Linked DNA regions of Homo sapiens: all the other regions are linked to region 1. Evidence: fine-mapped expression QTL. A gene starts in region 1. Each other region holds a variant in brackets. All regions are shown on one strand. Distances are between the middles of the regions.

Region 1 (11,083 bases):
TACCATACAGAAAAAAATCTTATTTTATTTTATTTTTCAATTTAACTCAACATATTAATACATATCCCTGTGACAACCATGTCATTTCTGGAGTATATTTTTAAGATGAATCACTGATGGGTAAATGTATGGGTGGATAGGTAGATAATGGACAGATATAGGTAGAGAGAGAGAGAGAAACACATTAGATAGATATGTATATCATAGATGGACGGAGAGATAGATAGATAGGGCTCTGAGTTTTCCATCTTCTGCATGAAATAATGAACTTAATTTTTTTAAACCACATATCTTTTTCTTTGCTTTAAGGGATTCTTCATCAGGGGACTATGTGTCAATGTGTTTTCAAATAAAAACAACTCTTGGCTTAAGTAAGATAAATATATTCAAAAAAGGTTTTTTTTGTTGTTTGTTTTTTTTGTTTTGTTTTGTTTTGTAAGGAAGTAGTATTTGGTAGTACTTAGTAGTAGCTGGAAATAGTATTTGGGGGCCTGCAGTGAGCAAGTGGTATGGTGGAACAATTGATCAAGAAATGCTTTTCTAAGGCCAAAACATTCTTGGAGCAAGGTTGTCTTGTGTTCCAAGGCTTGCACAGTCAAAGACTGGGTCAAGTTCCAGGGGAAGTGAGTAAGGAAAATCCTGACCAAGTGTGATCAAGTCAAGGAAGCAGGTATTTTGTCCAGATTTGCCTTTGTTTAGTATAAAGAATTTATTTTTTCTGTCTCAAGCAATTCTCTAGAAATGTCTTAGATTGATAAGTTGTCTTTCTTTTGAGAAGTGGAGCAGAGCAGGAGGGAGGTGGGATGGAAAAGTAGCAGAACTCAGGGGGAAGAGGTCTCACCTAGAGGCCAATGAGGACAGAAACTTTACATACTGCCATCCTTGCCTCTGCCCCCGGAAAGCCTTGTATTCCCAGGAAGAAGCTGCTGTCCTGGGGAAAGGTTAATGTGAGTGTTTTCTTCCTTTCAGGTTTTTGACTTTGAGTTGACTCCAGAGGACATGAAAGCCACTGATGGCCTCAACAGAAATTTCCGATATGCTAAGTTACAATTGTAAGTCATGCTTGCAGATTCTTTCACAGGCTGTTTTCTGTAATATGCAGGCAAACAGAGGAATACATCTTCCCTAAATCAGGAAGGCAGGCCAGATTTCAGGAATAGGTATGAAACAGGAGCTTCCCTATAGTCCTCATGTGGCTCAATCTGTGACCCAACAGGAATGTGAGTCAGTAAGTGAAACTGTTGACATCTGCACCATTGTGAATGCACTTCTTCAATTTTTTTTTTTTTTTTTCTGAGACAAAGTCTTGCTCTATTGCCTAGGCTGGAGTGCAGTGACACGATCTCGGCTCACCGCAACCTCTGCCTCCCGGGTTCAAGCAATTCTCCTGCCTCAGCCTCCTGAGCAGCTGGGATTATAGGCGTTTGCCACCACGCCCAGCTAATTTTTGTATTTTTAGTAGAGACAGGGTTTCACCATGTTGGCCAGTCTGGTCTCGAACTCCTGACCTCGTGATCTGCCCACCTCGGCCTCCCAAAGTGCTGGAATTACAGGCATGAGCCACTGTGCCCCGCCATGAATGCACTTCTTTAGTGCCCTTACTACCTGTGCCCGGTCCTGCACGCAGGGCCACTGCCTATTAGAATAGAAGGCACGGTGTCTATGACCCATCATACTTATAGGAGCCCATGATAATGTTCTAGCTTTAATTTATTTTAAAGTCAGAAGAAAAAGAGAATACAACAATGATGAATATGTAATAATGAATCCAGCCTCGTCTATCTTCATGTCTATACCAAGGCAATGTAAGACTTAATTTTAATATTTGTATAGAGCATTGGTCCATGAAAGCAAATGTGCATATGTCCTAGGGAAGTCACAGTGGGCCCTGCTTCCATGGCCTCCCCTAAGTGTCCAGTGACATTTCTCCTTACTGTGGCATTCCTTTTCCGAGACACCAACTATTTCTTCCAAATTTTTGTCTTCCTTGGCTTTCTTTACCTTCACAACTCCCATTTCCTCAGCTATATAATCTCACTAAGCTGAATGACAAATGAATTATGAAATTAATAGACCCTCAGTGCTAGTGACTGAGGTGTCCCCAGTGGCCTCCACCAAGTTAAGATCCTCTGGAATTTCTCCGGATCTTCGAGGCAAGACTCTTACTCCAGTGTCATCTTCGTCCATCTGAAGCCCACCTCTAAGGAACCCAACATAACTTCACTTTAGTTTATTCACAAACATGACGTTCCATTGGATCAACTGTGGCAGGATCTCAGGGTTGAGGAGAAAGATGACTAATCAAACAGAGCCAAGTTTGGAGGGGAGTTTAGAAACAGGGCGAAATATCATTTTAGTTAGGAAAATACTCAGTCTCCAAAACACATCTGAAAGGTCCCCCTTCTTTTTGTAAAACCATACCAGGCTTCCAAGAAAAGACATTTTCAATGAGAAAAATGTGAAAGCAACCTTTCTATACTCACAGGCCTTAAGTATAATCTGTGATCTGCCTCATGAGACTGTGAATGTCTCCTCTTACTCATCTCTGTGGCCCTATGTTAATACAGCTCCTGGTGCATTTAACTGCTTAGAAAGTACTCTTTAATGACACTCAATTAAAAAGAACGAATTATAAAAAAGAAAGCCCTTTTTGCCATTAAGGTAACATATTTTCAGGTTCCAGAGATAAGGGCATGTATGTCTTTGGGGGCCATTACTGAGCCTACTACACTAGTTTTGTAAGTAAATTTAGAGCAACTAAACTTTAGTTTTCTAATTTTTGTAATAGAAAGAATTCTATGTCCAGCCACTGGATCCTGAAACTCTAGACTTTTATCTCAGATATCAAGAGGAAAACCACATGAATAAATACCTGTTTCTTTAAAGCTGATGTAATCTTGACCCTATTGTATTTCCTCCTTCTGGATACATGCCCTTCATTATTTTATTCTAAAATTTATTCTCAGGATCTGTTGACATTGTCTTTTGTTGTTCATATGGAAAACTCAAGCTTTTCAGTTTGCCAACATTCTCAACTCTTCAGAATTTCTACTGATGTCTAGATTATACTTCAGGCAATGGATCCCATGTTTACTACTTAAACGTGCTTCATCTATGAAACCTTCAGTTGGACACATCTTATATTAATGAAGTCTCTTAACTCTGCAGTTTCTACTATACCTTGATTTATCAAGTTCTTGATTCATCAAGAGTTGTCATTAGGTCTCTCTTCTTTCCTCTTTGCATTCTTTCAATACCCATAGAAGTTTACGTATGAAAATTAGGCTAAATAATATACTAAATTGAAATTGATCAGACTCCACTTATTCTACACAAGTAAGTTTGGAAACATCTAATTTAAAGAAAAGCACTTTCTCACTATGGTTTCAGCAGTCAAGATGATTGCCTTTCCAACATCAGTTTTACTTTAAATAATTTGTTTAGGTCAGCCATGCTAATTTCATTGTGGTTGGCATAGGAGTCACTGTGGATAAAGAGTTGTGACCCAGCCTTAGCCAACGCCACATAAGAAGCACTGTGCTGGGTACTTCTAGGAGAGTTTCTCTCACTTCTAAGAAGGAGCCTTTGAAGAGAGGTTGCTTCTCTTCTTCAAGGGGATATTGTCCCATTGCAAGGTGAGGTGTGAAATTGCTGTGGAGTCTCCACCCAGCCTGAGGACGACATCAATACACAGAAGAAGAAAAAGGAGAAGATGAGAGAAATTCTGCACTCTCATGGATGACACCCAGAGTTTACCCTCCCTCTGGACTTCTTGTTATGGGACTAACACATTTTTGTGGATTTTAAACCAATTTGAATTACTTTTTTTGCACCTGCCTGTACTCTAATCCAAACAACCATCCAAGTTAATAATTTTCTCTTTACAATGCACCCTGCATTTTGTACCTATACAAGAGTGGTCAGAATGTGTGAAAACTGCTGAGTCATCCTGACAGCATGGCTCCAGTAGATTCTAGGGGTCGGCTATAGTATTGAGTGATATTAAAATAACAAATAATGCACAAAAGGCATGGATCTAAAAAAGTCTTTAGGAATCTTCACTCACTGAGAGCTCATATTCAGGACACAGTTTCTTCTTCAAATCACCTTGGACAAGTAAGTAACCCTTTTTGTTCCCTTTTCTGTAAAATAAGTTACAAGTTAAATCTACTTTGTAGGGTATTTGAGAGGATTCCCTGATAGTCTTGCCTGATACAGAATAGAAACTCAAAATCTTAGCTAGTAGCGTTGGTGTCATTGCTATTATCAGCACTATAATTTCCCTTGAGTTAGCCAGAAGAAATACTAAGTTTATTGGACAGTGAGTACAGGGTTGCCTTGCTCAGATGTACTGAGCCTACTGTCAACTTTAAGCCGCTCTCTGTGAGGTTAGAGTTTATCTTGGTCTGGGAGGACCAAGCAGAGTGCTTTAGAGATGACAAGCACAGCTGTGTTAAGAGACAACTTCCAAAGTTTGTGACCACATAGGATAAGTTACTCTAACTTTCAGTGCAGTTGAGCAAGAGTCCTTGATTGGTTTCTGTTGTGAATGCCAATATTTTTGTGTCATTTTGTGGGATCTTCCAGACACTGTCTGAGAGAAAATCTCCATAGCCTGGAGAGGAAGAAAAATGTCTGGATGGTGGGGTTTTGTCTCCTAGCACAGTTACCACCCAATGACCATCCTTCTTTACTTTTACAGGCCATTATGTTAAGCCTTTTTCATTTGTTGCTCTCCCATATCCCTATTTAGACTTTGATATCTGAAGGTGGAAACCATCCCTTTTCCCTCTGGAGCTGGAGTGATGTTCACGGAAGGCAAAGCAGCTGGGCCTGAATGGGGCTAAGCTCTGGGAGCCATGAGTGTCTCCACAGAAACAGAGCAGGACACCCGGAGGGACCACCCAAAACCTTGGGTCCGTTTGTGAGGCCATCAGATCCTCAGCTGGCATTTGACAAGGAGGATCAAGGTTGCAACAGCCTAAAGAAGTTTAATTTCAAGAAAACAGGTAACTTTTCTTTCTTCTTACTCATCTGAATTTGTGGATTGAAAATTATTTGCACCATATAGAGGAGTTTTCTAACTATCAAAGCACCAACAGTGGAGTTATTTGCTGCAGGACATGTTGAAATGATTCTCATTGAAGACAACTGGATGAATTCCCAGTGATGTTTGAAATGCAGGTTTGCCAGAGGAAAAGTCTGTTGAATTCTGTTTTTGAGAACCAGACATTTTCTTATAGATTAGGATAAACTCCTTGCATAATAAAGGTGTTTATCCATGGACTTCACATTTTATTCCTGTTGCTGTCTGATACTTTCCCCAATTACTTGGTTTAATTTGGCCTTCAAGCTCCCCTCCAACCCTGAGAGGCTGTTAGTGTGAACCCAGAAAGATTTATTCTGTCCCATGTTTTTATTTCTCCTGGAGCACAGTAGCACGAAAGAGGAGTGGATAGTATCCCCAAAATACAGAAGGGAGGAAACGGATGTGGAGAGAGAGGGAAGTAACCAGGGTACTTTGTCCACCTTCACATGATCCTAGGGATTATCCTGTGTCACAGGCACTTCAGAGTTGTTTTATTTTGGTGGTGTCTAAAAGATTTTAGTCTTAAAACACACATCCAGCCTGGGCCACAGACGTTGTCTCTACAAATAATAAAATAATTAGTCGGGCGAGGTGGCATGCGCCTGTGGTTCCAGCTAATAGGGAGGCTGAGGTGGAAGGATCACCTGAATCCAGGTGGCTGAGACTACGTAAGCTATGATGGCACCACTGCACTCCAGCCTGGACGACTCCTTCTCATAAAACCAAACCAATCCACACACACACACAGAGAAGAGAAACAGAGTTTACTTTTGAATATCGTTGAGAGAATATACTGAATTGCCTGGCGTGATGCGAATGAAGCAACATAGTTCTGTTCCTATAACAAGGACATTGGAAACAAAATTTTCACCAGTTGTAGCATTTCCAATTAGTCTAGTTGGGAGTCACCAGGATTAGATCAAAGTATAAATCCAAAGACTGTCAGAAAATATTCTGAATTCAGGAGAGAAGGGAAATCATGATAGAACAGGAAGTCTGATCTGTGTACAATCAGAAGATATCATAATCCAAATTTTACATCAAGTTAGGGGTACATGCAGGGTTTAACTCTGGAGAAACTTCACACAGAAGTCTGAAGACACCAAGAAGTGTCTTGGCAGCTGAGTAAAGGCAGCTTGGGATGAAGTTGAGAGTGCTGGGCATCTGCCAGGAAATTTCATGGTATTCAGCTTCATCAGAAATATGACTTGCAACTAAATATTTTTATCCCATTCTATAGGTTGCTTTCTGATGCTTAGTAGTCTCTTTTGATGCAAAAATGTTTTAATTTATGAAGTCTCATTCATCTATGTTTTCCTCTGTTGACTGTGCTTTTGGTGTCACTTGCATTTGATTTTCAGCAATTTCAGCCCTGTGGCTGTAAGACATAGGATTCTCACTCAGCGCACACCTAGAAGCTCTTAGGTCATGTGTGCTTAATCCAGGATTTTGAATTCCTGAGCTCACCCTTTTTTTTCTTCCTCTTTCCAGCAATATGAGGTGCAACTAACCAACATCATTCTATTCTTAGTTTTCCACAAATGTTTGAAAGTATCACATACAGAGTCACTATTTTTTTTGCCTCTTTTAAGTTGTTAAGTAGAGTATCAATGCAGATGTTTTGTGCACTCTATAAATACTTCATATCATGGACTATCAGTGCTCTCTTCATTATTGGAAATAAAGTCCTTCGCATTTTCAAGTCTAATCTGATTAGACTGACAATGCCAGAAACCCCAAAACCAATTCAGGAAACTCAAAATTCTATTCCTCTAGAACTGCTCCAGATACCAAAATCTATATTAGTCAGGGTTGTCCCAAGAAACAAAACATATAGTGTGTGTGTGTGTGTGTGTGTGTGTGTGTGTGTGTAAATGAAAGAGGAAATCTCACATGAAAGACTCAATCAATGCAGCAAACTTTATTTTATTTTATTTTATTTTAAATAAATGACCACAGCCACCTCACCCGTTAGTAACCACCACCCTGGTCAGTCAGGAGGCATCGACATCATATCTAAAACCTCCACTATCAACAAGATTATGACCTGCTGAAGGTTCAGATGACTATTGGCATTTCTCAGAAATAAAATATTTTTAACAAATGCATGCATATTTTTTTCTTTAGCTGTAATGCTATTGCACACTAAATATATGACAGTATAGTGTAAACATAACTTTATATGTACTGGGAAATCTAAATATTTGTGTGACTCATTTTATTGTCATATTTGCTGCATTGCAGTAGTCTAGAATTGAACTTGCAATATCTCTGAGATATGCTTGTATATAATATGTTGTCTATATCTTATCACAGTTTTTGACTAAATTTTATTTTTCCTGGTCCTAGTATAGCCACCACAGCTCTTTTTTGTCACTGTTTTTATAGAATATCTGTTTCTGTCTTTCACTTTCATACTAGTCACATCTATAGATGCAAACTGAGTTTCTAGTGCTGAGTATATAGTTGGATCTTGTTTCTTTTAATCCATTTTGCAAATTGATCTGCCTTTTGGTGTGGGGGTTTAATCCATTTACATTTAAAGTATATTCATGTGCTGCATAACAACATTTTGGTCAATGATTGACCATATATACAACAGTGGATTTATAAGATTACAAAACCTATTACTGCTCCTTTTATATGTTTATGTACACAAATACCATTGTGTTACAATTGCCTTATAGTATTCAGTAGAGGAACATGCTGCACTCTACTGTTTATAGCCTACAGGCAATGGTCTAGACCAGAAAGCCTATAGTAGAATATACCATTTAGATTCATGTAAGTTCACTCTATGGTGTTCACATGATGCTTGAATTGCCTAAAAATGCATTTCTCAGAATGTATTCTTATCATTAAATGACAGATAACTATAATTAGTGACAGCAACTTAATTTTGCATTTTAATATTTTTCTTTTCCTGTATGTCTATAGCATTTTGTTCTTCATATCCTCCATTACTAACATTTTTTTGTGTGTGTCACTGATTGATTTTTAGGGACACTTGGATTTCCCTCTCATTTTCACTTGTGTATATTCTATAATTGTTTTCTTTGTGGTTACCATGAAAATGACATAAAACATCCTAGAGTTATAAAATCTCCTTTGAAATCAATACACATTTAATTCTGTACATAAATTCCCCTTTTCCACATCTGTGTTTCTCTCAACTTCACATTACTGATGTCACTAATTACAACCTCATACATTGTGTACATGTTAACATAGATTTATAGTTATTTGTACACATTTGAATTTTAAATTTTTTTTTTTTTTTGAGACAGAGTCTTGCTCTGTTGCCCAGGCTGGTGTGCAGTGGCACAATCTTGGCTCACTACAAGCTCCGCCTCCCAGGCTCATGCCCTTCTCCTGCCTCAGCCTCCCAAGTAGCTGGGACTACAGGCGCCTACCACCATGCCTGGCTAATTTTTTATACTTTTTAGTAGAGATGGGGTTTCACCATGTTAGCCAGGACGGTCTTGATCTCCTGACCTCATGATACACCTGCCTTGGCCTCCCAAAGTGCTGGAATTACAGGCATGAGCCACTGCACTCAGCCAAATTTTAAAACTTGAACAGAAAGCTAGTATAAACAAAACTTTCAAAAATACATGTTTTTGTATTTTGTCCCATATTTACCTTGATGAGAGGTCTTTATACTTGATACGACTTTACATAACCATCTAATCTAACATTCTTTTATTTCATAGTGAATTACTCCCTTAAGCATTTCGTGTAGAGTAGTTCTAGTGGCAATGAGCTCTGTCAGCTTTTGTTTATATCACATTGTCTTTATAACTTCCCAATTTCTGAAGGTCATTTTTGTCAGATACAGAATTCTTGGTTGGCAAGTTTTCTTTTTTCTTTTACCAATTAAAAAATATATATAATCTCATATGCCCTCCAAGGTGTCTGATAAGAAATCTCCTGATAACTTCATCCAGAATTCCTTGTACCTCATGAGTTATGTTTCTCTTGCGGCTTTTCAAATGATCTCCTTGTCTTTGGCTTTTGAGAGTTTGATTATAATGTATGTGGGTCTGGGTCTTTTTCAGTGTATTCTCTCTGCAGATCTTCAAGTTTCTTGTATTTGTAGATTCATGTCTTTCATCATATTTGAACCATTCTTTTTCATCTTTTTCTTTCCAACTTTTATTTTAAGTTCAGGGGTATATGTGCAGGTTTGTTTCATGAGTAAATTTCATGTCATGGCAGGAGATGTACAAATTATTTAGTCACCCAGGTAATAAGCATACCTATATAACAAACCTGCACATGTATCCCTGAACATAAAAGTTAAAAAAATAATTTTTTAAAAGTCCTAAAAACTCCAAACATACACATTTGTATAGGAAAATCATGTAGGTGGATACACATTAAGTATTTTTCAATGGGAATATTACAGCTTATTTTTGTTCTCTTGTTACAGGCTGAAAGAATGAGAGTTGTGACCAACTCAGTATACCACTGGAGGCTATATGAGCAAACAGAAAACTGTTCTTATGAAAGCAGGATGTTGGAAAACTGATAACTGTGTCTGCCGCCAGAAGGGGTGCTGAGGGCAGTCAGGCCTCATGCACAGTGTTCCTTGTGATTATCTATAGGAACATCTGAAGCCTGTTGTACAAAGAAAGCAATTATGTGGACCTGTGATAAATCAAGCAGTGGACCAACCATTAGCTCTCCCTCCCTGCTCTTTCTACCTAACAAATATGAAAGACTGTAGAAACTCAGGGCTGCCTTTGCTCTCTAGAAGCAAGGAGCCCCTGACCCCCTCTTTCAAAATAGGTCTTTTCGTCTTTGTCTTTACTTCTGCATTCGACCCCCTTCATTGACCCTGTAGAAACTGTCAGTGACATTCTCTTTTCCCTTGTATTTTCTAAATTTTCTATAATTTGCATGTTATTTTAATAATTAGTGAGGGCATCAAAGAAGTGGATTTACAATGGTGCAAACATTGGCAGTTTCAGTTAGGAACTCATATTCCTGTTGGGTCAGAGATTGAGCCCTGGAGGAAACCTCTGGTCTGAGGGCTACAGGGAAGCTCCTGTTTCATGCCTATTCCTGAAATTAGGCCTGTCCCTCTGATTTAGGGAAGATTTATTCCTCTGTTTGTCTGCATACTACAGAAACAGCCTGTGAAAGAATCTGCAGGCATCACTTACAATTGTAACTTAGCATATTGGAAATTTCTGTTGAGGACATCAATGGCTTTCATGTCCTCTGGAGTCTACTCAACAATTTTTCTTCAAAGTCTAAAGGAGATTTTTTCTTCCAGCATAATATTCCGTGCAGTGCAGAAAGTCTTTTCTTTTGCCTTTTGGTAAATGGCCTAAGAGATTTTACAGTTTATTGAGAGAATTCCTATGCCATTATCATTAAGTTTTGGTTTGCTTAGAATGTAAAAAAAACTGAGATTAGAACAAATTTTTAAAAAAGTAAGGTTATTACATCTGTATATCTTTCTGTATGTGCTTTTAAAGTCCTTGTGACATTGAGTTACAGGGCTTTGACTCCTGGATCTATAAAGGACACCAAGTCCTGCTACATCTTAAACACTGACAACAATTAAAGCCTCATCTTCAGGCGCAGTAGAAGATGCCAATCAAAATAAATTGCATTCCTGAGACATAGGGCCAGAAATAAAAGCTATTCAACTCCTCAAGGCCCCAGGACTATTGTGGAAGAGGTGGGTGTGTGAGATTGAAAGGGCCAATTTTGAGAGACAAAATAAGTTCAATTTCTCTGTAAATTAATCATTAATGTCAAAGGCACACTGATGCAAGACAAGAATATGGCCCCCTGTGACAGATTAACAAGGTTTTAGTGAAGCATTAACTGACTCCTTAATAAAGGTTATAAAGGTTATAAAAGGCTTAAGAAAGTTATATCCTATTGTCAAGATTAAAAGTTCATAAATTGTTAATAAAATTTTGAAAAACAGATTTAATTGGTATCACACTGTTTTTATTAGGGCTTATAGTTTGGAAA
Region 2 (11,083 bases), 23 kb before region 1:
CTGGTCAAGTTGACATTTAAAATTAACCACTGGCCAGGCATGGTGGCTCACGCCTGTAATCCCAGCACTTTGGGAGGCCGAGGCGGGCTGATCACCTGAGGTTGGGAGTTCGAGACCAGCCTGACCAACATGGAGAAACCCTGTCTCTACTAAAAATACAAAATTAGCCGAGCGTGGTGGCACATGCCTGTAATCCCAGCTACTCGGGAGGCTGAGGCAGGAGAATCACTTGACTCTGGGAGGAGGAGGTTGTTATGAGCTGAGATCGTGCCATTGCCCTCCAGCCTGGGCAACAAGAGCAAAACTCCATCTCAAAAAAGAAAAAAAAATTAACCATCACAGTGTGTGTATGTGTACGTGTGTGTATATGCATGCATGTGTATATGTGTATATGTGTCTGCATGTATGTATATGTGTTTGAGTGTATGTGTATATGTGCATATATGTATGTGTATGTGTGTGTATGGGTGTATATGTATGCATGTATGTGCATACATGCATGTGTGTATGTTAAGGAGAGAAATCTATAAACCTCAAGAAAGAAGCTGACAAGTTTCTACAGCAGATTACTAACCCAGCTGGTGGTCACCCCTTCACTGTGCAGCTCCTGGGACCCATGGTCTAAGAATATCTTCTGCCTTTGCATGGCTGGGGTGCCTCCTTCCCCTAACCTCTTTCCTGGTCCTCTTCCTTGTGGTTGCGGGACTGACCTGGCAGAACGATGGCCCGGTATACCTGTCGAGGTTGTGAAAGATGGCTTCATCTACAAATATTAAATCTGCAGACTAAAATGCCTGTGATATTCATGTCTCTTTGTGGTGTGGTCTGTCTCCCACAAATATTGAAAAGAAAGAAAGATAAGCTTGAGTGAAGAGCCCTGGAATCTTTAGCCCCTGTGTCTTCAACTATGCCCCATTGCCCATCATTGGTGACTTTTTCCTGGTCAATTTCCCAACAATGATGAACCTGTTGTCCTGTTAGTATTGCTTTTGGTAGGAACAGTCTTCTGCTTCTTCCCGATTACTTCCCCCTTCCTTTCTTTGTCAGGCTGATGCCTCCCTGTGGCTTGGCTTTGAACCTGGTGGAACATTTGGGTTGCCCTCTGAGGCCTCCCGCCCTCCCAGTGAAAGCAGCTGGGGTCAGGCCTGCTTTGCTATCCCTTGAAAGGCACAGGCTGTCCTCATGATGGAGCCTCTGTCCACACCCATTCCACTCTTGGTTGCCTCATGCCGGCCACCCTAAATTTGTCTCATTGTTTCGAAAACACCAGTTATTTCACATCCTGTTGCTTTGTTCACAGTAATCTCTCTCTGGCATCATCTTTCCTGCCTGCCTCATGCACACTTACATCAGTTTCCTAGAACTGCTATAACACATTGACCAAAACTGGGTGGCTTAAAACTATGGAAACTTATTCTCTCACAGTTCTGAAGTCTGAAATTGAGGTGTTGGCAGGCCCACATTCCCTCTTGGGTATGTGGGTTCTTCAAATATAAGATGCTGACAGTTGTAAGATGCATTATTATTTTATATACTACTTAAGAAAGAAAAAACTCTGCCAACTAACTTATGTCATGCTATCAACTTTAAGTTGCATCCTGATTTCATTTTACGTGAAAAAATGTGCAATTAATGAAATGCAGCATAACTTACAGAAAGCCAAATGAATTCCACTCTCTGGAATCACAAGATTAGGATATATCAAACTGAATAAACAAATAAATGCACATTGGCAAAACTGGCCAAGCACAAAGAGGTTAAGACAATGTGGAAAGACCTTGCAAATACGACTTCTATATGCTCATTGGGTTCTGCCATTTTGAAGCACCCACACAAGTGTTGGAAGGCAGAAAGAAGCAGCAGCCAAATCCTAGGGCATTTGGTGTTTTCTGCTGGCAGTGAAAGTTAGAGGTGGCAGGCACAGCCTCTGGCTTCCAAGGTGACTACAGGCAGATGTGGGGTGGCTACACTCACTGCACCACCCGCTGTGCAGTGGTTCCTGGGCTCCTGTGTCCAGGGCACTGTGTGGCTGTGGCTTCCCGATTCTGGCCATCGTAGCTATGGATGGAGGTATGTTCTTGAGTGCAAGGATTTCCGAGGTAGCTTTCCTGATGGGGCAGGTGCAGACACTCATGTGCGGGGTCAGGTACACACTGTTCTTGGAGCAGTTCTTAGAGGTCATGTTAAGCTTCCATCTCCAGGCCTTACCAGTGTTTTCTAAGCAACCAAAATTATTTATCTCATTTCTGCTTAAAAGGCATAGAACAGTTCTTGGTTCTGGCACTGAGCTCCAGCTAATACAGTGTTTGAAACCAAACATGGTTGCAGGCAACTGACTCAAGATTGGAGTATTTGGATAGATTAAATTACGCTGAAGTAACAACTTCCAAATCTCATCAGCTTAACAAAATGAACTTCTGTCTGTCATTCATAGTGTCCAGGGCTTTGCTCTAGGTGGACATTCCGGGACTCAGGGTGATATGTTATTTTGGTATGCCAACCTGAGGCTCTGCAACAGGAGAAGGAAGCTGGGGAATTAGGTGCTGAATGCCAACTCAACATACAAAACTCAGTTGCATTTCCATACACCAATAACAAATTGGTTGAAAAAGAAGCAATATAATATTCCATGGTGTATATATAACACATTTTCTTTATGCATTCATCTGTTCATCAACACTCAGGTTGGTTCCATATCTTGGCTGCTGTGGAGTGCAGATATCTCTCTGACATACTGATTTCATTTTCTCTGGATACATACCCAGTAGTGGGATTGCTGGATCAAGTGGTAGTTTTATTTTTAGCTTTTTGAGGAACCTCCAACTATTCTTCATAATGGCCATTATTCCTGACTGCTCTTTTGAATGCTGAGTACCTCCTCTTTTCCTGCAGTGCATGCATGTAGAGAACCCAAGGCTGGGAGAGGAGAAAACTTGGGGTGCTGATAGCAGCAAGCTTTTCCGTATTAAAGGGAGCTGTGTTCTCTGAAGTTGGAGTGCCTTCAGCTGTGGCTTATCTCCCTTCAGCAAGCACAGGTCCCATGACATAGATTCTGAGGAAGACCTTGGTGAAGAATGTGGACTCCTAGCTCAGACCAAACTCTGCAACCTTAGCAAAGCTGGATATTCAATCTGTTGCATTCTTCTGATCATGTGTTACAATCTACAAATGGCAGAGCCATTGGCATTCAAACACCTGATGTTTTTCCCTGGTGTAATCCATGCCCCAGAGAGATAGGAAACCCTTCCTTCGTCTTCTTGGTCACAGTTTGGGAAGGTGTTTACCCCTGGGACCAGAGGCTCAAAATTCAGCAAAAAGTACTGATATGGTTTGGATATTTGTGCACTCCAAATCCCATGCAGAAATGTAATCCCCAGTGCTGAAGGCAGGGCCTGGTGGGAGGTGATTGGATCATGGACTGGATCACTCACGAATGGTTCAGCACCATCCCCTTGTGATGAGTTCATTCTCGCTGTGAGTTTCTGGAGATCCGGTTGTGTAAAGTGTGGCATTGTCCCCCCTTGCTCTCTCTTGCTCCTACTCCTGTGGTGTGAGACACGGGCTCCCCCCTTACCTTCCGCTGTCACTGTAAGCTCCCTGTGGCCCTCCCCAGAAGCAGATGCCAGCACCATGCTTCATGTCCAGCCTGCAGACCATGGGCCAATTGAACCCCTTTTCTTTATCAATTACCCAGTCTCGGGTATTCTTTCATCATGATGCAATTGCCCTAGTACCATCACTCCCACGTCCTAGTTTCAAGGAAGGCTGTTGTTTTAGTCCCAGCCCAAGGGAACATGTGAAGATATAGCCTCACAAAATTGAATGTGGAACTCTTGGACTTATTCTTACATGCCTGATTTAAAAAAAAATACTAGGGGCCGGGCGCGGTGGCTCACGCCTGTAATCCCAGCACCTTGGGAGGCTGAGGTGGGCGGATCATGAGATCAGGAGATCGAGACCATCCTGGCTAACACAGTGAAACCCCGTCTTTACTAAAAATACAAAAAAATTAGCCGGGTGTGGTGGCGGGCGCCTGTAGTCCCACCCAGCTACTCGGGAGGCTGAGGCAGGAGAATGGCGTGAACCCAGGAGGCGGAGCTTGCAGTGAGCCGAGATCGCGCCACTGCACTCCAGCCTGGGCGACAGAGCGAGACTCTGTCTCAAACAAACAAACAAACAAACAAACAAAACCTAGGAACAGTTGCACATAAAAGATACTCAGTAAATATTTCTGGAACTGAATTTCAGGTAGGCTATTTAGCCCCACCTATTAATCCTAACCTCTGGCAAAGGTGGCTTTAATCTTGTGAATGCTTAAGAAGCCTTAATGAGATTTAAGAAATTTTCCCAGGAACAAATAAGTTTTTCGTGTTATCCCCCTCAGTGAACACTGCGACACTTACATAACCCAGCATTCCTGCCCCATCAGCCTGAACTACAGAAGAAGGCGGTATTTCATTAACATCCCGTTGAGGATGCGGGGCCAGGGTCAGCCTGATTGACTGACACTCCTGTCTGCTCAGTGCCCCTCCTCCTCCCTCTCCTGCTCTGCTGTAGCCCAGGAGAGCGGCCTCTTCTGCCCTGGGTGCTGCCCTCTCTGCCTGCTGCCTTCCAGCTGGACTTGGCCACTGTGAGGCGCTGCTGAGAGCAGAAAGGGAAGCTGGAGTCCAGGTGCCTTTCTTCCCTTCTCTAGGGGACACAGCAGCAGCTTCCATCCCTCCAGTCGTCCTGGCTGCCTCCCTCAGGCCCTCCATGGCTGCTGCTTCTTCCAGGGACCCCGGGCTCTGCCTCCAGCACTGCTACCTCTGTTTCTCTAGC[C/G]TAGGAGGGTAGCGACTTCCTGTGTTTAAAAGCCTCTGGGTTGCTTTATTGTTTCCTGACTGGCTTCTTTGTAGATACTCCAACCGTCTGATTACACATCCTGTTTAAATAAGCAGCATGGATTTTTATATCCTGGTTCATGACTGATGCTGTTACCTCAAGATGCCCCTGGTGTTCTGAACCTCCTCAGGGCTGCCACCCTGCACCTGTCCACAAGCGGCCACGCGTGAACTCCCCCTGTGGCCACCATGCTGGCCTCCTGTGCTGCTGTGTTCTCTGACTAGAGCATTTGTCACTCAGCTGGGCATAGCTGTACTCTGCTGAGGAAGGCCCTGCTGTTAGTCCCAGCCCTGAGGGGAGGGATGACGAATGCTTTGCTGCTCTGTTTGAGTGCAACATGGGCCTCTCAATTTCCCACTGCAAAAAACAGTGTTGGACGCAATCTTTCATAAGGATTTAGAGATAGTTTGCAGATCACAGAAAATAAGAACAGAGCACAGAAAAACTTAAAAAAAAAAAAAACCCCACTGTGCCTATGCTTAGAACTCAATTTCATTCATTCCGCAAATATTTATTGAGCACTGACCACATACTAGGGAGCTTTTCTAGGTGTGGTGATTAGTGTTGGAGAAATCAGTCAATAAATATGAAAACATACCACAAAATAAGTGAATAATTCAGGCAATTGCTCTGGTCACAATTGTTCTGAAGGAACTAAAACTGAGGAGTAAGATGGAGAGACACAGTGGGGACTGGGGAGCTACTTTGATTAGAATGACACAGGGACAAAGACATCACCAAGAAGGTGAGACTGAAGCCAGAAACCAATGATGAGACAGAGGGGGTGATCGAGGCTCTGGAAAACCTCTGCACAGGTAGGTACGAGTCTCTATGTGATGCCCACATTTTCCTAGAGAAGAACTTGACAAGGACATGTCCATCTTGTTGCAGGGGCAGGGAGTGAGTCTCAGGAGATCTCAATTGAGTCTGTACCTTTGCTTGGGATGCAGGACCTGGGAGAGGTAGCCCAGAGCAGCATGAAGGCCTTGGCTGGGGTGGGGCAGGCCTGGGAGTGAGGGGCAGTGAGCAGCCCCAGAACACTATGACCCTGCTGCTATGGCCTCCCTTTGCCCTGTGCAATGAATGGAATCTTTACATCCCCACCAAAGTCGTATATGAAGCCTTAACCCCCAAGGTGATGCTATTTGGTGGTGGGTCCTGTGGAGGTGATTAGGTCGTGAGGGTGGAACCCTCATGAATGGGATTAGAGCCCCTCTTAGTCCATTTATTGTTGCTATAAAGGAGGACTTGAAGCTGGGTAATTTATAGAGAAAAGAAGTTTATTCAGCTCACAGTTCTGCTGGCTGGAAGTTTCAGGACTGGGCTTCTGGTGAGGGCCTCAGGCTGCTTCCAAGTGTGGAAGAAGGTGAAGGGGAGCTGGTGTGTGCGGAGATCGTGTGGTGAGACAGGAAGCAGGAAGGAGGGGAGGGGCCAGGTTCTTTTTAACAACTAGCTCTCATGGGAACTAATAGAGTAAGACCTTACCCCCCTCCCCTGGGAGGGCATTCATCTCTTCATGAGGCGTCTACCCCATGGCCCCCAAGCCTCCCATTAGACTCCATCTCCAACAATGGGGATCAAACTTGAACATGGGATTTGGAAGGGACAAATGTCCAAACTATACCAGTGCTTCTGATAAAATAGCCCCCAGAGAGATTGCGTGCCTGTTTCGCCACATGAGGACAGTGAGAGGACAGCTGTCTGTGACACGGGATGCAGGCCCCCGCCAGACCCTGAATCTGCCAGCACCTTGATCTTGGACTTTTAGCTTTCAGATCTGTGAGCTATCTATGTCTTTTGTTTATAACCCTCCCAGTGTACAGTACTTTGTCACAGCAGTCTTAACGAACCAGACTCCCGGTCAGAAGGTGTGGTCTTAACCAGACTTTTCAGAAGGCATTTTGAGAACTCTGAAAGCTGATCTTTTTGGCTCCCTACTTATGTGGGGGTGGTAAAAGAGGGGTAAGGTGTGTTTCCCCAGAGAGTCGGGCAGCATTTCTCTTTGTTGCTTGACAATGGATTCCCATTTATTCAGAGAGGATTATATGGGTGTGTCTTAGTCTGTTTCCTGTTGTGTAACAGAATAGCCGAGACTGAGTGACTCATAAAAAACAGAAAGTTGTTTGGCTCAGTCTTGGAGTCTTGAAAGTCCCAGATCACAGGCCCCACATCTGGTGAGGACATTTGTGCTGTGTCATCCCATGGCAGAAGGCAGGGGGCACGAGCGCAGGGGTAAGAGGATGAGAGACAAGAGAGGGCTGAAATGACTTTTGCAATAAACCCACTCTCACGATAATGGACCCGTTTTCGCAATAATAAGGTCAGTGCTTCATGACAGCAGGGCCGTTATGACCTAGTGACCTCTTAGAGGGCACGTCTTTACACTGTTGCACTGGGGATTATACTTTCAACACATGGACTTTGGGGGACACATTCAAACCACAGCAAGGTATTTGGCATTTTATCGCCATGCAATGTTAACATTTCTCTCATAACCCTGGGTTAGCCTTTCCTCGTGAATTGCAGCATCCTTGCTGAACTCTTGTTCTGTATGGTTAAATCTCCTATCAGAGTTTTGGGGCTGTATCCAACTCTTTGTAGTTTTGCTGTAAATAATGACTTTTCTTTCTGTCCAGCAAAATGTTTTAAAACAAGATGATACTTGATATGGAATGGCTCAAACATCCTTTATTCCTCTGATAAATAACTCACTTGGTGTGAATAATTCAGGCAATTGCTCTGATCACAATTGTTCTGAAGAAACTAAAACTGAGGAGTGAGATGGAGAGACACAGTAGGGACTGGGGAGCTACTTCAATGAGAGTGACACAGGGACAAAGACATCACCAAGAAGGTGGGAAGAAATTCTTTATCCCCTCATCATCCTATCTGGTGGTCCCCACTAGAGAAAACCCGCCAGGATTTCTTTCAGTGCAGCTAAAAAGGTGATGCTGGTGGCTGAGACTAGCTCTGAGAGGAGAACAAGCTTGCTCAGTTCTTTAAGGCCTCAGTTTTTAGCTGGCGGGTGGACTGAACGTTAGACAAATTTTTAACCTGTTGAATTGTGGACTCCAGGCAGTTCACATCAATGAAGACAGAATTTTCTTGTGACTTGATACGGAACATCTCTATTTAGTGCAAAAGCTTTAGCAATGGAATATAAAGGATATTCTCATCAAATTTATAGCAAACACAATGTTGAGATAAATGTAACCACATGGACTCATAGAATCAGACAGAGTTCTGACCTTGACCAGCCAGAGGGATGAGTTGAAAGTAAGATAAATTATAATTGTATGTTTCATAATTGGCTGTAAAATACGGATGGCACAAATACAGGTTGCAAGAAGCACAGTATAATAGAAACATTAAAGAAAACATGAGTTAGGTGTTTTATGTAGCAGAAGTTCCTTATTAGTTGAGAATGTAATTTGAATGATGTGGTTTTTTGGCCTGGACGGTAGAAGCTAAAGAGTATGCAGGGAAGGGCATCAGCTTCATCTAGGGAGATCATAGAAGGAGTCATAAAGGATGTGTGACTGGAGGAGGTGCATTTTAGATAAGTAAGAAGTCATTAAACTGCTGAAAACTAGGTGGGATAGAGAAAGCTGTTCCAGAAAGAGGCAATGGCTGAAAGAAAGGCAAGAATACAGACATTTATCCATGATTTCAGACAATTTTTTCTCACCAAAAGGATTCAAGAAAACAAGATCGAGACCATCCTGGCTAACACGGTGAAACCCCGTCTCTACTAAAAAAATGCAAAAAATTTAGCCGGGCGTGGTGGCGGGCGCCTGTAGTCCCAGCTACTCGGGAGGCTGAGGCAGGAGAATGGCGTGAACCTGGGAGGTGGAGCTTGCACTGAGCCGAGATCGCGCCACTGCACTCCGGCCTGGGCAAAAGAGCGAGACTCCGTCTCAAAAAAAGAAAAAAAAAAAAAAAAAGAAAACAAGACAATGAGAATCAAAAAACGAAACGGTCCTTGGTACAGGAGACAAAGATAATGAAAGTAGGAGTAGGTCTTCCTAAGAAATGTTGTTACGTGTGTGCTTGGGACCAGGTGTCAGGCTTTGTTCAATAAATTTTCAGTGAGGTATTGTTATGGGATTTATGATGAAAGGAATGGTGAGGAAGCTAACTTAGGTACTCTGGGAAAATTAGTGTTTAGATTCACTAGCCTAATGATAGTTTTATACCTTGTAAAATAAGTCTGGTGCCATTATCAAAGACATATTTGCATGCTTTTTTTGAACTTTTATTTTAAGTTCAGGGGTACGTGTTCAGGATGTCCAGGTTTGTTACACAGGTAAACCTGTGTCATGCGGGTTTGTTGTACTGATTGTTTCATCACCCAGGTATTAAGCCCAGTACCCATTAGTTATTTTTCTTGATCCTCTCCCTCCTCCCACCCTCCACCCACTGATAGGCCCCAGTGTGTGTTGTTGCCCCGTATGTGTTCTCATCATTTAGCTCCCACTTATAAGTGAGAACATACAGTATTTGGTTTTCTGTTCCTGTGTTAGTTTGCTAAGGATAACAGCCACTATCTCCATCCATATTCCTGCAAAGCATGTGATCTAATTCTTTTTTATGGCTGCATAGTATTCCATGGTGTACATGCACCACATCCTCTTTATCCAGTCCATCACTGATGGGCATTTGGGTTGATTTCATGTCCTTGCTATTGTGAATAGTGCTGCAATGAACATACACAAGCATGCATCTTTATAATATAAGAATTTATATTCCTTTGGGTATATGCCCACTAATGGGATTGCTAGGTTGAATGGCACTTCTGACTTTAGGTCTTTTGGGGAATCACCAGACTGTCTTTCACAATGGCTGATCTAATCTATACTCCCACCAACCGTGTATAAGCGTTCATTCCTCTCCACAACCTTGCCAGCATCTGTCATTTTTTTGACTTTTTAATAATAGCCATTCTAACTGGTGTGAGATGGTGTCTCCTTGTGGTTTTGATTTGCATTTCTCTAATGATCTGTGATGTTGAGCATTTTTCATATTTGTTGGCTGCATGTTTGCCTCCTCTTGAGAAGTGTCTGTTCATGTCCTTTGCCCACTTTTTATTGGGGTTGTTTGTTTCATTCGTGTAAATTTGTTTAAGTTCCTTATAGATGCTGGATATTAGACCTTTGTCAGATGCATGGTTTGTAAAAATCTCTCATTTTGTAGGTTGTCTGTTTACTCTGTTGATAGTTTCTTTTGGCATTTTAAATTTTTTAACTTAGAAATCAAGTGTGTACAACACTGAAGAGAAAATTCAAACTCCTCTAGCATGCAAATCTTTCTGTACGATTTTCCTGTAAGACAGGCCTGCAGAGACATGGAAGAATCAGAACAAAGTCAATGGATTGATTTCAACTTCATGTTGAAATTATAGGCAGCTGTAATCTCTGCCCTGCCCATCTTGTATTGATGGAAATAAAGAACGTGGCAGCCTTGTCTCCTACTGGGCTCTCAGTCAGGAAATGGAAGGAAAGGCAGAGTCAGATTAGCTGAGCTGTGGGTGGTGATGGATCTGAAGCAAAGCCATTCCGTGAGGCTGAATGATGGACATGTCATGCCGATGCTGGGATTTGGCACTTATGCTCCTGATCATGTAAGTGGACCCCAGGAGGCTGAAGGGTCTTATATTTTTTTGCACTAAGAGGATGATAAGCTGTTGACTCTGAGAGTTTGGAGGTTAATTTTTTGGATAATTCTTTTTATTATTATTATTGTGACCTAACATATATCAAATGGTTTCATGTATTGTATTTTCCATGCATTATCTTATTTAATTCTTCAACAACCGTCCTTGGTAAGTACTCACTACTTCTTACATTAAAAAAAAAAAAAAAAAAACCCATGCTCAGGCTGCTCTCATCTTCCACCTGCTCAGAGCCGCTCCACTCCTGGTTAGAAATGTGAAGGGCCAAGGGCCTAGGGGGAAGTGGAAACCAACATGAATACTTGCTGGCAGCTTTGCTGTGAGGTTGTTGGGGCTGGAAGTATTTGCCAGGGAGTTTCGACCATCCAAACCTTTTGTCACGTAAGAAGCCACTGTGATTCAGAACATTAGGTAATTCGATGGGAAGACTTAGGGGGCACAACATCACAGTAAGGACTGAAATACAGCCATCCACTCAGTTCATGGCAGAGAACTTGAAGTGTCACACTCTGGTCACGGTAACGTAAGGGCAGC
Region 3 (11,083 bases), 27 kb after region 1:
CTGTTGTTGGTGTATAAGAATGCTTGTGATTTTTGTACATTGATTTTGTATCCTGAGACTTTGCTGAAGTTGCTTATCAGCTTAAGGAGATTTTGGGCTGAGACAATGGGGTTTTCTAGATAAACAATCATGTCGTCTGCAAACAGGGACAATTTGACTTCCTCTTTTCCTAATTGAATACCCTTTATTTCCTTCTCCTGCCTGATTGCCCTGGCCAGAACTTCCAACACTATGTTGAATAGGAGTGGTGAGAGAGGGCATCCCTGTCTTGTGCCAGTTTTCAAAGGGAATGCTTCCAGTTTTTGCCCATTCAGTATGATATTGACTGTGGGTTTGTCATAGATAGCTCTTATTATTTTGAAATATGTCCCATCAATACCTAATTTATTGAGAGTTTTTAGCATGAAGGGTTGTTGAATTTTGTCAAAGGCTTTTTCTGCATCTATTGAGATAATCATGTGGTTTTTGTCTTTGGCTCTGTTTATATGCTGGATTACATTTATTGATTTGTGTATATTGAACCAGCCTTGCATCCCAGGGATGAAGCCCACTTGATCATGGTGGATAAGCTTTTTGATGTGCTGCTGGATTTGGTTTGCCAGTATTTTATTGAGGATTTTTGCATCAATGTTCATCAAGGATATTGGTCTAAAATTCTCTTTTTTGGTTGTGTCTCTGCCCGGCTTTGGTATCAGAATGATGCTGGCCTCATAAAATGAGTTAGGGAGGATTCCCTCTTTTTCTATTGATTGGAATAGTTTCAGAAGGAATGGTACCAGTTCCTCCTTGTACCTCTGGTAGAATTCGGCTGTGAATCCATCTGGTCCTGGACTCTTTTTGGTTGGTAAACTATTGATTATTGCCACAATTTCAGAGCCTGTTATTGGTCTATTCAGAGATTCAACTTCTTCCTGGTTTAGTCTTGGGAGAGTGTATGTGTCGAGGAATGTATCCATTTCTTCTAGATTTTCTAGTTTATTTGTGTAGAGGTGTTTGTAGTATTCTCTGATGGTAGTTTGTATTTCTGTGGGATCGGTGGTGATATCCCCTTTATCATTTTTTATTGTGTCTATTTGATTCTTCTCTCTTTTTTTCTTTATTAGTCTTGCTAGCGGTCTATCAATTTTGTTGATCCTTTCAAAAAACCAGCTCCTGGATTCATTGAGTTTTTGAAGGGTTTTTTGTGTCTCTATTTCCTTCAGTTCTGCTCTGATTTTAGTTATTTCTTGCCTTCTGCTAGCTTTTGAATGTGTTTGCTCTTGCTTTTCTAGTTCTTTTAATTGTGATGTTAGGGTGTCAATTTTGGATCTTTCCTGCTTTCTCTTGTAGGCATTTAGTGCTATAAATTTCCCTCTACACACTGCTTTGAATGCGTCCCAGAGATTCTGGTATGTGGTGTCTTTGTTCTCATTGGTTTCAAAGAACATCTTTATTTCTGCCTTCATTTCGTTATGTACCCAGTAGTCATTCAGGAGCAGGTTGTTCAGTTTCCATGTAGTTGAGCAGTTTTGAGTGAGATTCTTAATCCTGAGTTCTAGTTTGATTGCACTGTGGTCTGAGAGATAGTTTGTTATAATTTCTGTTCTTTTACATTTGCTGAGGAGAGCTTTACTTCCAACTATGTGGTCAATTTTGGAATAGGTGTGGTGTGGTGCTGAAAAAAATGTATATTCTGTTGATTTGGGGTGGAGAGTTCTGTAGATGTCTATTAGGTCCACTTGGTGCAGAGCTGAGTTCAATTCCTGGGTATCCTTGTTGACTTTCTGTCTTGTTGAGCTGTCTAATGTTGACAGTGGGGTGTTAAAGTCTCCCATTATTAATGTGTGGGAGTCTAAGTCTCTTTGTAGGTCACTGAGGACTTGCTTTATGAATCTGGGTGCTCCTGTATTGGGTGCATAAATATTTAGGATAGTTAGCTCCTCTTGTTGAATTGATCCCTTTACCAATATGTAATGGCCTTCTTTGTCTCTTTTGATCTTTGTTGGTTTAAAGTCTGTTTTATCAGAGACTAGGATTGCAACCCCTGCCTTTTTTTGTTTTCCATTGGCTTGGTAGATCTTCCTCCATCCTTTTATTTTGAGCCTATGTGTGTCTCTGCACGTGAGATGGGTTTCCTGAATACAGCACACTGATGGGTCTTGACTCTTTATCCAATTTGCCAGTCTGTGTCTTTTAATTGCAGAATTTAGTCCATTTATATTTAAAGTTAATATTGTTATGTGTGAATTTGATCCTGTCATTATGATGTTAGCTGGTGATTTTGCTCATTAGTTGATGCAGTTTCTTCCTAGTCTCGATGGTCTTTACATTTTGGCATGATTTTGCAGCGGCTGGTACCGGTTGTTCCTTTCCATGTTTAGCGCTTCCTTCAGGAGCTCTTTTAGGGCAGGCCTGGTGGTGACAAAATCTCTCAGCATTTGCTTGTCTATAAAGTATTTTATTTCTCCTTCACTTATGAAGCTTAGTTTGGCTGGATATGAAATTCTGGGTTGAAAATTCTTTTCCTTAAGAATGTTGAATATTGGCCCCCACTCTCTTCTGGCTTGTAGGGTTTCTGCCGAGAGATCTGCTGTTAGTCTGATGGGCTTTCCTTTGAGGGTAACCCGACCTTTCTCTCTGGCTGCCCTTAACATTTTTTCCTTCATTTCAACTTTGGTGAATCTGACAATTATGTGTCTTGGAGTTGCTCTTCTCGAGGAGTATCTTTGTGGCATTCTCTGTATTTCCTGAATCTGAACGTTGGCCTGCCTTGCTAGATTGGGGAAGTTCTCCTGGATAATATCCTGCAGAGTGTTTTCCAACTTGGTTCCATTCTCCACATCACTTTCAGGTACACCAATCAGACGTAGATTTGGTCTTTTCACATAGTCCCATATTTCTTGGAGGCTTTGCTCATTTCTTTTTATTCTTTTTTCTCTAAACTTCCCTTCTCGCTTCATTTCATTCATTTCATCTTCCATTGCTGATACCCTTTCTTCCAGTTGATCGCATCGGCTCCTGAGGCTTCTGCATTCTTCACGTAGTTCTCGAGCCTTGGTTTTCAGCTCCATCAGCTCCTTTAAGCACTTCTCTGTATTGGTTATTCTAGTTATACATTCTTCTAAATTTTTTTCAAAGTTTTCAACTTCTTTGCCTTTGGTTTGAATGTCCTCCCGTAGCTCAGAGTAATTTGATCGTCTGAAGCCTTCTTCTCTCAGCTCGTCAAAATCATTCTCCATCCAGCTTTGTTCTGTTGCTGGTGAGGAACTGCGTTCCTTTGGAGGAGGAGAGGCGCTCTGCGTTTTAGAGTTTCCAGTTTTTCTGTTCTGTTTTTTCCCCATCTTTGTGGTTTTATCTACTTTTGGTCTTTGATGATGGTGATGTACAGATGGGTTTTCGGTGTAGATGTCCTTTCTGGTTGTTAGTTTTCCTTCTAACAGACAGGACCCTCAGCTGCAGGTCTGTTGGAATACCCTGCCGTGTGAGGTGTCAGTGTGCCCCTGCTGGGGGGTGCCTCCCAGTTAGGCTGCTCGGGGGTCAGGGGTCAGGGACCCACTTGAGGATGCAGTCTGCCCGTTCTCAGATCTCCAGCTGCGTGCTGGGAGAACCACTGCTCTCTTCAAAGCTGTCAGACAGGGACACTTAAGTCTGCAGAGGTTACTGCTGTCTTTTTGTTTGTCTGTGCCCTACCCCCAGAGGTGGAGCCTACAGAGGCAGGCAGGCCTCCTTGAGCTGTGGTGGGCTCCACCCAGTTCGAGCTTCCAGGCTGCTTTGTTTACCTAAGCAAGCCTGGGCAATGGCGGGCGCCCCTCCCCCAGCCTCGTTGCCGCCTTGCAGTTTGATCTCAGACTGCTGTGCTAGCAATCAGCGAGATTCCGTGGGCGTAGGACCCTCTGAGCCAGGTGTGGGATATAGTCTCGTGGTGCGCCGTTTCTTAAGCCGGTCTGAAAAGCGCAATATTCGGGTGGGAGTGACCCGATTTTCCAGGTGCGTCTGTCACCCCTTTCTTTGACTCGGAAAGGGAACTCCCTGACCCCTTGCGCTTCCCAGGTGAGGCAATGCCTCGCCCTGCTTCGGCTCGCGCACGGTGCGCACACACACTGGCCTGCGCCCACTGTCTGGCACTCCCTAGTGAGATGAACCCGGTACCTCAGATGGAAATGCAGAAATCACCCGTCTTCTGCGTCGCTCACGCTGGGAGCTGTAGACCGGAGCTGTTCCTATTCGGCCATCTTGGCTCCTCCTCACTTTACACTATTTTTTTAAGTCAGGCATATAAGAATAAGAGTTCCATATTCACTTTGTGAGGCTATATTTTCACATGTTCGCTTGGGCTGGGACTAAAACAACAGCCTTCCTTGAAACTAGGATATGGGAGTGATGGTAATAGGGCAATTGCATCATGATGAAAGAATACCTGAGACTGGGTAATTAATAAAGAAAAGGGGTTCAATTGGCTCATGGTCTGCAGTCTGGACATGAAGCATGGTGCTGGCATCTGCTTCTGGGGAGGGCCACAGGGAGCTTACAGTGACAGCGGAAGGTAAGGGGGGAGCCTGTGTCTCACACCACAAGAGTGGGAACAAGAGAGTGAGGGGGCAGGTGCCACACTTTACACAGCCAGGTGCCCATGAACTCAAAGCGAGAACTAATCACATGGGGGTGGTGCTGAACCATTCATGAGTGATCCAGTCCATGATCCAATCACGTCCCACCAGGCCCTGCCTCCAGCACTGGGGATTACATTTCTGCATAGGATTTGGAGTGCACAAATATCCAAATCATATCAGTAATTATTGCTGAATTTTGAAGCCCCTGGTCCCAGGGATAAACACCTTCCCAAACTGTGGCCTGGAAGACCAAGGGAGAATTTCCTGTCTCTGGGGCATGGATTACACCAGGGAAAAACATCAGGTGTTTGAGTGCCAATGGCTCTACCATTTGTAGGTTGTAACACATGATCAGAAGAATGCAACAGATCAAATATCCAGCTTTGCTAAGGTTGCAGAGTTTGGTCTGAGCTAGGAGTGCGCATTCTTCACCAAGGTCTTCCTCAGAATCTATGCCATGGGACCTGTGCTTGCTGAAGGGGGGATAAGCCACAGTTGAAGACACTCCAACTTCAGAGAACACAGCTCCCTTTAATACTGAAAAGCTTGCTGCCATCAGCACCCCAAGTTTTCTCCTTTCCTAGCCTTGGGTGTTCTACGTGTGTGAACTGTAGGAAAAGAGGAGACACCCAGCATGTAAGAGAGCAGTAGGGAGTACTCAGAACCCACTAAAGACAGCAGATCCTCCTGCTCTCAGCCCCAGGGCACCCCTACCCACCATCCCCCAGACCAAATGAACTCTGCTGTGCAGCTCCTCCTGCCTAAAATTGTCTCCATTCCTGTTTTTCATGCCGCAGGAAGTTAGACAAATGCTGAGGTTATCAGAACAGTAACAACAACAATACTTACTGCTGTGTGCCAGCGCCTTTATTGAAGTGTAATTTATATATCATGAAACTCACCAATTTTTAACATACAGTTCTATGAGTTTTAGCAAATGTCTAGAGTTCTGCAATCATCCCTGTGTTAAGGCTCAGAAAATCATACTACAAAGTGGAAAATGATACCCCAAGGTAGGGAGCTTTGACAGGCTGAACTGAGACAGCAGGCTCAGGGTCTCCCCCACCATACCCCTCCCCTCCTCCCACCTTTCCTCCCTTTGTCTCCCAAGAAGTGCAAGATTAGGCTCTTTTCTGAAGTTTCTTTACCTAGAAACTGGACTCACAAAGAGGAACACAATTGCTTTCAATCTCTCCCTGAAATTTCATTAACCAAAGAGGATTAGAACTTATGTAACAGAGGAAGAGACTGAAAATTAAACACCAACATTTACAGCCTAAACCAACTTTGTCCCAAATTGTTATTTGTTCTGTGCTCCCAACATCCAAAGTAAATAGACTACAGGATGATCTTTGCCTCCCAGGTCCATTCATCTCTCCTGAAAATCATTGACTCCCATACCGCCTATTTCCTCACCTCCCCTTCTCCCATGAAGTGAGGTATATAAGCACCTGGACCTCACCTGGGTTATTAGGTCATGATTCTTCTGCAATTCTTCCATTCTATACACATAAAAATAAACTTATATGCCTTTTCGCTCCTCATAATTTTTTTTT[TG/G]TTCATTCATTTTCAGTGAAATTTCAAAGGATAAAGAGGTAAGATTTCCCTTTTTGGCCCTATAACCACAATCTCATTTTGAAACACTTTCATCACCCCAAAAAAATTCTCTGTGCCCATCTGCAGGCAATCTCTCCTCCCAACACCAGCTCTAAGTAACCTGTAACCTACTTTCTGTCTATAAAGCTTCACCTCTTCCAGAAATTTTATAAAAATCAAGTCAAACAATAATTTTTTAAATATTTGACTTTTACTTGATTAAAATATTTGTGGTTAATTTTTGTTCTTGCCTGTACCAATAGTTTGCTCCTTCTTATTGAGAAGTATTTGTTCCATTGTATGGATGTACCGCGTTCTGTTTCTCTATTCACCAGTGAACGGAATTTAGATTGTTTCTAGTTTTTGGCTATTATGAATAGTATTGGTACAATGAACATTTGTGTAGGAGTCTGTGAATCTACATTTTTCTTTTGGGTGGTTGTCTAGGAATGGAACTTCTGGGATCTAGAATAAGTGTATGTTTAACTTGTTAAACTGCCTCACTGTTTTTCAATGTGGCTGCACCATCTTACATTTTTCATTAGCCATGTTTGACTCTCCTGCCCAGAGACAGCCACCTCATCCTGTTTCTCCACCTTTGTTTGCTTTGTTTTGCTGACTGTGCCCACTGGTGTTTCTAGGTCATGAGCCTCCTCAGTGCCCAGTCCAGGATATACAGGAGGCAAAAAGATCCAGAGGACTTACTGCCCAGTCATCTCTTCAGTCCTGGGGTCTAGGTCCCTAGACAGTCTGCCTTCTTTTCTCAACATTTCAGAGACTTTTACTGTTTTTAGGTGTAACGGGTAGGGGAGCACATTTAAGTGCGACACTACATTTCTGGAACCAGAAGCAGGTGTCATGGTTAAGAGCATGCGCAAGTCTAAATCACACTGCCAAGTCTCATCTCCTGTCTCTGGCTTACTTCTCCCACGTCCCGGGAGAAGTCCAGCAGAGGCATTGGCTCCAAATCGAATCTCCTGAGACTCACTCCCCTTCCCCCCGCAACAATATGACCGTGTCCTTGTCAAGTTCTCCTTTAGGAAAGTACTTGAGTCACGCCAAGAATAGTACCTGTCTGAGCAGAGGTTCCCTAGAGCACCATGTCACCCCCTCTCTCTCATCATTTTGTTCTTAGCTTCAGTCTCATCTTCTCAGTGAGGTCTTCATCCCTGTGTCACTCTATTCAGCGTAGCTTCCCAGTCCCCATTATCTGTCTCCTTCTCAACCCTCTGTTTCAGTTTCTTAAGAATTGTCATTGTTAGTAATTATTTGATTTATTCACTTATTTCATGGTGTGTTTTCATAATTATTTTGATTCTTCCAACTCTAACTACCACACCGAGAAAAACTCCCTAGTATTAAACACATCTTTGTTAATCGAAATAGGAACGATTACGACCAACACATTTTTGCCAATGAGAAATAAGTTTGTTCCTATAACATAAAAATCCATGCTTCAGCATTCTATGAACTCTCAGAAAGCATTTTCTGTATCAAGCTGGTTGTGGAAGCATTTTCCCTGCAAAAAGTTGTCAGATGCTTCAAAAAGTGGTAGGTGGTTGGTGAGAGGTCAGGTGAATATGGCGAATGAGTCAAAACTTTGTAGCACAATTCCTTCCATTTTTGAAGTGTTGGTTGTGCAACGTGCAACTGGGCGTTGTGGAGAAAAACTGGGCCATTTATGTTGACCAGTGACTGCTATAGGCATTGCAGTTTTCAGTGCATCTCATATATCTGCTGAGCATACTTCTCAGATGTGATTTTGCTGGGATTCAGAAAGCAGTAGTGGATCAGACCAGCAGCAGATCACCAAACAGTGACCATGACCTTTTTTGGTACAAATTTGGCTTTGGGAAGTGCTTTGGGGCTTCTTGGTCCAACCATTGAGCTGATCCTCATCAGTTGTCTTATAAAACTCACTTTTTGTTGCATGTTACAATCAAATCATGCAATGGTTCATTGTTGTTGCATAGGATAAGAGAAAATGAAACTTCATGGTTCTTTTGATTTTTTGCTCAGCTCATGAGGTACCACTTATTTCACCTTTCCAATTTGCTTCAAATGCTAAACGTCTGTAGAATGATCGATGTTGAGTTCTTTGGCAACTTCTTGTAAGAGGATCAGCTTTGATTGCTTTCAATTTGTAGTTGTCAACTTTCGATGGCCGGCCACTACATCATCTTCAAGGCTCTTGTCTTTGTAAAACTTCTTGAACGACCACTGCACTGTATATTAGTCAGCAGTTCCTGGGCTAAGTGTGTTTTTGTTGTTGTGTGTTTCTGCTGCTTTACAAATCATTTTGAACTCGAATAAGAAAATCACTCGAATTTGCTTTTTGTCTAATGTAATTTCCAGTCTAAAATAAACATAAAATAAACAGCAAGTAATAAGTCACTAGCAAAATAAAGTGAGAAATGCCCATTAAAATGATACATAATATAATCACATTTATTTAAGAATGTATTCTAGTATCAAACAGCAAATTCCAACAATGCAAAAACCACAATTTTTTTTATTCTTTAAGTTCTGGGATATGTGTGCAGAATGTGCAGGTTTGTTACATAGGTATACACATGCCATGGTGGTTTGCTGCACCCATCAATCCATCTACGTTACGTATTTCTCGTAATGCTATCCCTTCCCCATCCCCCCACCCCACAACAGGCCCCCGGTGTGTGATGTTCCCCACCCTGTGTCCAAGTGTTCTCATTGTTCAATTCCCACCTATGAGTGAGAACATGTGGTGTTTGGTTTTTCTGTCCTTGCAATGGTTTGCTCAGAATGATGGTTTCCAGCTTCATCCATGTCCCTACAAAGGACATGAACTCATGCTTTTTTATGGCTGCATAGTATTCCATGATGTATATGTGCCACATTTTCTTTATCCAGTCTATCACTGATGGACATTTGGGTTGGTTCCAAGTCTTTGCTATTGTGAATAGTGCCACAATAAACATATGTGTGCATGTGTTGTCTTAGTAGAATGATTTATAATCCTTCAGGTATATACCCAGTAATGGGATTGCTAGGTCAAATGGTATTTCTGGTTCTAGATCCTTGTTGAATTGTCACACTGTCTTCCACAATGGTTGAACTAATACACTCTCACCAACAGTGTAAAAGAATTCTTATTTTTCCACATTCTCTCCAGCATCTGTTGTTTCCTGACTTTAATGATTGCCATTCTAACTGGCATGAGATGGTATCTCATTGTGGTTTTGATTTGCGTTTCTCTAATGAGTAATGTTGAGCTTTTTTCGTGTTTGACTGCATAAATGTAGTCTTTTGAGAAATGTCTGTTCATATCCTTTGCCCACTTTTTGATTTTTTTTTTTTTGTCTGTAAATTTAAGTTCCTTGTAGATTCTGGGTATTAGCCCTTTGTCAGATGGATAGATTACAAACATTTTCTCCCAGGGTTGCCTGTTCACTCTGATAGTTTCTCTGGCTGTGCAGAAGCTCTTTAGTTTAATTGGATCTTATTTGTCAATTTTGGCTTTTGTTGCCATCGCTTTTGGTGTTTTAGTCATGAAGTGTTTGCCCATGCCTATCTCCTGAATGGTATTGCCTAGGTTTTCTTCTAGAGTTTTACTGGTTTTGGGTCTTACGTTTAAGTCTTTAATCCATCTTGAGTTAATTTTTGTATAAGGTGTAAGGAAGGGGTCCGGTTTGTTGTCTGCATATAGCCAGTTTTCCCAACACCATTTATTAAATAGGGATTCCTTTCAGCATTGCTTGTTCTTGTCAGGTTTGTCAAAGATCAGATGGTTGTAGATGTGTGGTGTTATTTCTGAGGGCTCTGTTCTTGTTCTTTTAGTCTATATATGTTTTGATACCAGTACCATGCTGTTTTGGTTACTGTAGCCTTGCATAGTTTGAAGTCAGGTAGCATGATGCCTCCAGCTTTGTTCTTTTTGCTTAGGATTGTCTTGGCTGTACAGGCTCTTTTTAGGTTCCATATGAAATTTACAGTAGTTTTTTCTAATTCTGCAAAGAAAGTCATTGGTAGCTTGATGGGGATAGCACTGAATCTATAAATTACTTTGGGCAGTATGGACATGTTCATGATATTAATTCTTCCTATCCATGAGCATGGAATGTTTTCCCATTTGTTTGTGTCCTCTCATTTCCTTGAGCAGTGGTTTGTAATTCTCCTTGAAGAGGTCCTTCACATCCCTCTTAAATGTATTCCTATGTATTTTATTCCCTTTGTAGCAATTGTGAATGGGAGTTCACTCATGATTTGGCTCTGCCTTTATTGGTGTATAAGAATGCTTGTGATTTTTGCACATTGATTTTGTGTCCTGAGACTTTGCTAAAGTTGTTTCATCAGCTTAAGGAGATTTTGGGCTGAGACAATGGGCTTTTTAAAATATGCAATCGTGTCAGTTGCAAACAGATAATTTGACTTCCTCTCTTCCTGTTTGAATATCCTTTATTGCTTTCCCTTGCCTGATTGCCCTGGCCAGAACTTCCAATACTATGTTGAATAGGAGTGGTGAGAGAGGGGATCCTTGTCTTGTGCCAGTTTTCAAAAGGAATGCTTCCAGCTTTTGCCCATTCAGTGTGATATTGGCTGTGGGTTTGTCATAAATAGCTCTTATTGAGATGTTCCATCAATACCTAGTTTATTGAGAGTTTTTAGCGTGAAGCGCTATTGCATTTTATCGAAGGCCTTTTCTGCATCTATTGAGATAATAATGTGGTTTTTGTCATTGGTTGTTTATTTGATGGATTATGTTTATTGATTTGCATGTGTTAAACCAGTCTTGTATTCCAGGGATGAAGCCGACTTGATTGTGGTGGATACGCTTTTTGATGTGCTGCTGAAATTGGTTTGCCAGTGTGTTATTGACGATTTTTGCATCGATGTTCATCAGGGATATTGGCCTGAATTTT

Evidence for each region. PIP is the estimated chance that this variant, and not a neighbour inherited with it, causes the effect.
Region 2: its variant is fine-mapped to the expression of LINC02561 in whole blood (INTERVAL, PIP above 0.99).
Region 3: its variant is fine-mapped to the expression of LINC02561 in whole blood (INTERVAL, PIP above 0.99).

Annotation. Positions count from the first base shown.
Region 1 is chr10:5,265,124-5,276,206 of GRCh38, reverse strand. It overlaps LINC02561 (long intergenic non-protein coding RNA 2561), which reads left to right and starts at 4,971. Exons shown (of 2, transcript NR_149060.1): 1 at 4,971-5,009; 2 at 9,522-10,218. It also overlaps the pseudogene AKR1C7P. RefSeq lists an enhancer at 3,469-4,668.
Region 2 is chr10:5,287,823-5,298,905 of GRCh38, reverse strand. No RefSeq gene overlaps it. Among named protein-coding and RNA genes, the nearest start is that of LINC02561, 22 kb to the right of the region's middle. RefSeq lists an enhancer at 6,520-7,719. The variant C/G (reference allele first, on the strand shown) is at 4,819.
Region 3 is chr10:5,238,497-5,249,579 of GRCh38, reverse strand. No RefSeq gene overlaps it. Among named protein-coding and RNA genes, the nearest start is that of LINC02561, 27 kb to the left of the region's middle. The variant TG/G (reference allele first, on the strand shown) is at 6,146.